2 linked regions of the Homo sapiens genome follow. The protein of the gene in region 1 interacts with the protein of each later gene in a biochemical or structural test. Each region holds a gene or a part of one and is shown on either strand. Other genes may lie near its edges.

Region 1 (3,649 bases):
ATAGCACTCAGAGCAGCAGCATCGGCATCACTTGGGAGATTCTAAGAGATGCAGATTCTCCAGCATCCACTCTGGACTGATTCAGTAAAACTGGAAACACTGGGTGTGTGGGTGGGGGTGGTGAGGTTTCAAGTGCTCCAGGTGATCCTGATTTGAGGCGCTTACTGCTTCCAGCTACTCCTTTCATTGGAGTATTATTACAGTATTATGCTTTTCTTTATTTTTAATTGTTAAAATTTCTTTATTTCTTTTTTTTGAGACGGAGTCTTTCTCTGTTGCTCAGCTCTGTCACCCAGGCTGGAGTGCAGTGGTGCAATCTCTGCTCACTGCAACCTCTGCCTCCTGGGTTCAAGTGATTCTCCTGCCCCAGTCTCTCAAGTAGCTGGGACTATAGGCGTGCACCCTCACACCCAGCTAATTTTTGTATTTTTGGTAGAGATGGGGTTGCACCATGTTGGCCAGGCTGGTCTTGAACTCCTGACCTCAGGTGATCTGCCCGCCTTGGCCTCCAAAAATGCTGGGATTACAGGCATGAGCCACTGTGCCTGGGCCAGTTTGAGGGATTTTAAAGTCTGAGGCCTCATAGTGAGAAAATAATAATAATCATCATCTGAGGAATGCGGAGTCCTTTTAAATTATCAGGCCCAGAGAGACATTAAAATGACACAGCAGTCACCTCGTAGTTCCCACCCCCTTGAGCTATTTACTTATCACTCGAAAGTACTTCATATTGCCACATAGCTACAGATTAACCTAACAGTGCCCCAAGGACACTGTAATCCACAGCTCAGGAGTTTGAGCTCCAGCGATCTGCCTGCCTCGGCCTCCCAAAGTGCTGGGATTACAGGCATGAACCACCACACTGGGTCTGTAGTAAATTCTTGAGTTATATTTTGTGCCTTAGCCTCCTGCTTTTAGGTCAGTATTTGTGTACCCTTCCCACTGCCAGTGGAAAGCTGAAATGAGCCCATCCAGGAAGTGGCTGCCTGGAGACAGGGCCCACCTTGTAGGGAAAAACTGCTTTTTCACCTTCTTGTTGAGTGTTTGCTTTTCTTCTCAAATATCATCTGCTTTCTGAACTTGTGAACTGGCAGCTGCCTACCTAAATGATGCCAATAACTGGCTTACTGACTTTTATTCAAAGTATTTTCCCGGGATTTTGGTGTATTTATAGCATAATTTGGACTTGGAGTCTAAAAGGAGTCATGCATTATGGCTGTTGGCAATTGTGGATTTTTAAAGGTAGTATTTTCACCTATTTCTTTCTTTTTTCTTTCTTTTTTTTTTTTATGAGACAGAGTTTTAGCTCTGTTGCCAGGCTGGCCGTGGTGTGATCTCGGCTCACTGCAACCTCCGCCTCCAGGGTTCAAGTGATTCTCCTGCTTCAGACTCCCAAGTAGCTGGGATTACAAGTGCCCACCACCATACCTGGCTAATTTTCATGTTTTTAGTAGAGACAGGGTTTCACCATGTTGGCCAGGCTGGTCTCGAACTCCTGACCTCAGGTGATACACCTGCATCGGCCTCCCAAAGTGCTGGGATTACAGGTGTGAGCCACTGTGCCTGGCCTTCCATTTTCTTTTAGCTATTGTTTCATTTCTAACAATAAAGGCAGCTAGAATTTCTTTTGGTATTTGATATGAGATAGTCCCCATTTTTTCCCCAAACAGCTCGTTTTCCCCATTATCATTTATTGAATAATTCCTCCTCTTTCCCGTTAGTGGAAATAAGTGGCATAGCCTATGAACTGTGGCCAGCTGGGCACAAGATGGGTCAATCCCTGAGACTCTCCTAGGAATTGTCCTGCTGCCCCCTGGTGCCCGGCAGGCACTTTGCATTCCTCTGCCCACACCTGATCCAGAGGTGATCTGGGGTCAGCAGCAGGGTGGAGGCTAACAACGAAGGACTTTTCCCTAAATATGGGCATTGAGAGGGATCTCCAGATGCATCTGGCCCACAGAAAGTGGTTAAATCCTTGCTCCCCTGTTGCTGGCCATATCTCAGTGGGTGAAGTGTCATCTTGCAAAGCCTGTGCTGCTGTGGAAACTGCCACTGGTGACCAGACAGACTCTCTGGAGACCTGCCCTAGAGAGCTGATGACATGACTATAGAAGCAAACACAAGTGGCTGAGGGCAGGGGATGGCTTAGAGAGGAAGGGTGTGTGAGGCCCTCAGTCAATGCATCAAATGTTTAATTTTATATTTTCTTTTTCTATAATAAAAAAAATATTTTTCTTGTAGAGATGAGGTCTCACTATGTTGCCCAGGCTGGTCTCAAAATCCTGGGCTCAAGCAGTCCTCCTGCCTTGGTTTTCCCAAGCGTTGGGATTACAGGAATGAGCCACTATTCCTGGCCATTTAATTTTGTGTTTTTGTGTGTGTGTGTGTGTGTGTGTGTGTGTGTGTGTGTGTGTGTGTGTGTTTTGAGACAGGGTCTTGCTCTGTTGCCCAGGTGGGAGTGCAGTGATGCAATCATGGCTCATTGTAGCCTCAAATTCCTAGGCTTAAGTGATCCTTCCAGCTCAGCCTCCCAAGTAGCTGAGCTACAGGTGCACGCCACCACACCTAGCTAAAGTGTTTTTTTTTTTTTTTTTTGACGGAGTCTCACTGTCACCCAGGCTGGAGTGCAGTGGTGTGATCTCAGCTCACTGCAACCTCTGCCTCCTGGGTTCAAGTGATTCTCCTGCCTCAGCCTCCCAAGTAGCTGGGACTACAGGTGCCTGCCACTATGCCCAACTAATTTTTTTGTGTGTTTTTAGTAGAAATGGGGTTTCAGTATGTTGGCCAGGCTGGTCTTGAACTCCTGACCTTGTGATCCGCCCTCCTTGGCCTCCCAAAGTGCTGGGATTACAAGCATGAGCCACCGCACCTGGACACCTAGCTAATTTTTTGAGGGGCGGGGGACGGAGTCTTGCTCTGTTGCCCAGTCTGGAGTGCGGTGGCGTGATCTTGGGTCACTACAATCTCTGCCTCCAGGGTTCAAGTGATTCTCCTGTCTCAGCCTCCTGAGTAGCTGGGACTACAAGCGCACGCCACTGCATCCAGCTAATTTTTGTATTTTCAGTAGAGATGGGATTTCATCATGTTGACCAGGATGGTCTTGATCTTCTGACCTTGTGATCTACCCACCTCGGCCTCCCAAAGTGCTGGGATTACGGGGGCGAGCCACTGTGCCTGGCCAGTAATTTTTATTAATACATTTTTGGTAGAGACCAGGTCTCGCTGTGTTGCCCATGTTGGTCTTAAACTCTTGGCTTCAAGTGATTCTCCCGCCTTGGCCTCCCAAAGTGCTGACATTGCAGGTGTGAGTCACTGTGGCCGGCCAAATAGTAAATTTCTGTGTCTGCAGAATCACAGTCTCTTGGGGTTGAGCATCCTGAAATCTGCATTTTTTAAAGCATTATTTCCTGGTTGATTCAGATGCTGAGATTTGGGAGCCACGTTTCTCAGGTCTTTCTCAGTCTTTGGTGTCCAATTCTACTTGATCGGTGTCTGGGAGGCCAAGGTTACTGCCTTGATCCTCTGCGGTTTAGATTATTCATTTAGCAAACATTTGAGTGCCTTATTTTTATTTTATTTTTTGTTTTTAATTTTTTAATTTTTGAGATGGAGTTTCACTCTTGTTGCCCAAGCTGGAGTGCAGTGGCGT
Region 2 (3,649 bases), on another chromosome or scaffold:
TGGTATAGAGAATTAGACCAGGCACGGTGGCTCATGCCTGTAATCCCAACACTTTGGGAGGCTAAGGCAGGAGGATGGCTTGAGCCCAGGAGTTCGAGACCAGCCTGGGCAACGTGGGAAAACCTGGTCTCTATGAAAAAATACAAAAATTAGCTGGGCACAGTGGCATGCACCTGAAGTCCCAGCTGCTCGGGCAGCTGAGGCAGAAGGATTGCTTGAGCCTGGGAGGTGGAGGCTGCAGTGAGCTATGATCATGCCACTGCACTCCAGCCTGGGTGACAGAGTGAGACCCTGCCTTAAAAAAAAAAATTAGAATTAGACAGCAGGCAGAGTTTTCTTAGTGGGACAGTTGCACAAGTCATTTTCCCCTCCTTGATCTCCTTTCTCAGCTGTGAAATGGGTCAATAATTAATATCTACCATGCAGGCCGGGCGCAGTGGCTCACGCCTGTAATTCCAGCACTTTGGGAGGCCGAGGCGGGCGGATCACTAGGTCAGGAGATTGAGACCATCCTGGCTAACACGCTGAAATCCCGTCTCTACTAAAAATGCAAAAAAAAGTTAGCCAGGCGTGGTGGCGGGCGCCTGTAGTCCCAGCTACTCGGGAGGCTGAGACAGGAGAATGGCGTGAACCCGGGAGGCGGAGTTTGCAGTGAGCCAAGATCATGCCACTGCACTCCAGCCTGGGTGATAGAGCGAGACTCCGTCTCAAAAAAATAAATAAATAAATATCTACCATGCAAAAGGATCAAGTGGGTTAATAGGTTTGCTTGCCTTTGCCATGGGCTTAACAAACCGATGCATAACACATACGAACTTGATTCCTCCATTTCCCCCCTTGTCTTCCTCCCAGGCTTTAAGCTTTCCAAGAGCCAGGGCTGAGTCTGACAGTTTTTCCTCAGCCTCTGCCGCCTTGGCCTCCTGATATGCCCGTCTAGCATTTGGTGGTGAATGTCAGATCCGTGTCTAGGCTGTGAGCACCTCAAGGGTGGGGGTTGAGTCTGATTACTTGCTCTGTTCCAGGACCCCAGCAAACAGCAGGCCTAGTTCCATCTTTGTTGAGTGAGTGAATGAATGAATGAAAATGAGTGAATGAATGATGGGGTCAGCCCTCTTGGATTTCCACCAAGACTGTGCACAGTGCCTGGCTCAGAGCATTCAACAGGTGTTTGCTTGTTTCAACAGACTGAATGACTCAACCAATGAATGAATGACTCGAACAAATGAATTTTGACTGACTCAACCCCACATCCTCCATCCTCATCCTTTCCATGCACGTTCCTTGAGCACCTACTATGTGCACAGCACCAGGCCTTGGGGATGTGAGATGAATCAGACACAGCATCTGGCCTGGGGAGGGCGAGGGCGGGGTTGGGGGGGGTGGGAGTTCACAGTCTGGTGAGGAGGCAGACGTGTAAGCAAATCATGGCTACGACATGAGATAAGTGCTAGGATGCCGTTAAATGCGAGTTTCTCTTGGTGCCCAGGGGAGGGAGCCATCAACTCTGACTTGCACACCTTCTCAGCTTTGTAAGAGTAGGATGAGGAGCAGGTGACCTTAGGGGCTGTGCTCTGGCCCTGTGCCCCCAGTGTGGGTGTTGGGGCTGTGAAAACATGCAAAAAGCCAGGCGCGGTGCCTCACACCTGTAATCCCAGCACTTTGGGAGGCTGAAGCAGGCGGATCACGAGGTCAGGAGTTCAAGACAAGTCTGGCCAAGATGGTGAAACCCTGTCTCTACTAAAAAGACAAAAATTAGCCAGGCATGGTGGCGGGCACCTGTAATCCCAGCTACTTGGGAGGCTGAGGCAGAGAATTGCCTGAACTCAGGAAGCAGAGGTTGTAGTGAGCTGAGATCGCGCCATTGCACTCCAGCCTGGGTAACAGAGTGAGACTCCATCTCAAAAGAAAAGAAAAGAAAAGAAAAGAAAAGAAAAGAAAAGAAAAGAAAAGAAAAGAAAAGAAAAGAAAAGAAAAGAAAAGAAAAGAAAAACACGCAAAAGTACACATGGCAGGAGTTAACAGTCTAGTTGGCCAGCAGCACGGGCATACACAGACTCACATGCACACACACACTCCCAAACACACCCAGAACACACACTGGGCTAACTCTGCTGCCCGATGTGTGACTTTGGCAGTCAGAGTCGTCCATTCATAGGAGATAGGTGAACCATAGGATCAGAAGGCCAGGTGCACAGGAGGATTGCTTGAGCCCAAAAGGTGGAGGCTGCAGTGAGCCGAGATCACGCCACTGCACTCCAGCCTGGCAACAGAGCGAGACTCTGTCTCAAAAAAAAAAAAAAAGGAAGAAGAAGGCCAGGTTGTTGGAATCCTAACTGCTCCACTAACTGGTTGTGTGGCCCTGGGCGTAGCATCTGCCCTCTCTGAACCTGTCCTGTAACATAGGCCCATACAAACCCCTTGGTGGATTTGTCATGTGGAAGGGGTAAGATCAAGGAGGTGCTTGGGAAATGGTGGTTAAATTAGCATCAGAGGGCGCTGGGGTAGAGTTGAGCTGGAGGCCAAGTTGGGTTTGGCCAGGCCAAGATAAAAGGGAGAGGACACTCCTTCTACCGAATAGTCCCTGTGGGTCCAGCATTAATCCAGGTGGTGGGTGCCACAGGCAAAATCATGCCCCTGTACAACTTATGGTGTAGAGGAGAAGAGACACTACTGAGACAAATAACAGGAAATGGAATTTCAGTGAGACGGGGTTACGAAGAAAATGAGTTAACATTGGCTTAGAGTGCCTGGCACATACATCAGTGTGGTACTAAAAAATAAAGCAAAGGGTTGAGCACGGTGGCTCATGCCTGTTATCCCAGCACTTTGGGAAGCCAAGGCAGGCGGATCACCTGAGGTTGGGAGTTCGAGACCAGCCTGGACAACATGGGGAAACCCTGTCTCTACTAAAAATACAAAAATTAGCCAGACATGGTGGTGGGTGCCTGTAATCTCAGCTACTTGGGAGGCTGAGGCAGGAGAATCGCTTGAACCTGGGAGGCAGAGGTTGCAGTGAGCCGAGATCGTGTCACTGCACTCCAGCCTGGGTGACAAGAGCGAAACTCCATCTCAAAAAAATTTTAAAAATAAATAAATAAATAAAAATAAAGCAAGGAAGAGGACAAGGGTTTTTTTTTTAGACAGGATGGCCAGAGAAGACCTCTCTGAAGAGGCGGCATTTGTGCAAAAGCCTGAACGAAGTGAGGAAGCAAGCTATGCTGAGATCTAGCGGGAAAGGATTCCAAGCAGAGGGAGCAGCCGTGCAAAGGTCCTGGGGCATTAGTGTGCTGTCAGAGGAAGGAGGTGGCCAGTGTGGCTGCAGCCTGGGAGCAAGGGCAGGTGGTAGAAGATGAAGTTGGTGAGGGTCAGGGTGGGGAGTGGCAGGGCAGGCAGCTCAGGTTAGCTCAGCTAACCCTAACCCTCCTAGGCCGTGGCATGGACTTTGTGCTTAGCCCAAAAAGTGATGATGGGTGCCATGTGATTGACACCGGTGAGAAATTGATCTGAATGTAGAAGGCATCCCTGTCCCCACTGGCCCAGTCCTGCCCCCACCCTTTCCTCCACAATGTGTGTCCCCTTCCTTCTGGGCCTGGCAGAAAGTGTGATTAAGATAGAAGACTTTGGAGTCAGAGAGATCTGGGTTCGAATC

The links. Proteins that work in one complex are often made in the same cells at the same time.
Region 2: the proteins of ABCC4 (region 1) and SHANK1 interact in a test that uses a peptide from one of them, tested with the Homo sapiens proteins (one large-scale study listed by IntAct).

Annotation. Positions count from the first base shown.
Region 1 is NC_000013.11:95,294,909-95,298,557, reverse strand, and holds part of ABCC4 (ATP-binding cassette sub-family C member 4), read left to right. Parts: intron 1-3,649. UniProt on the Homo sapiens protein: ATP-dependent transporter of the ATP-binding cassette (ABC) family that actively extrudes physiological compounds and xenobiotics from cells.
Region 2 is NC_000019.10:50,706,217-50,709,865, reverse strand, and holds part of SHANK1 (SH3 and multiple ankyrin repeat domains protein 1), read left to right. Parts: intron 1-3,649. UniProt on the Homo sapiens protein: Seems to be an adapter protein in the postsynaptic density (PSD) of excitatory synapses that interconnects receptors of the postsynaptic membrane including NMDA-type and metabotropic glutamate receptors via complexes with GKAP/PSD-95 and Homer, respectively, and the actin-based cytoskeleton.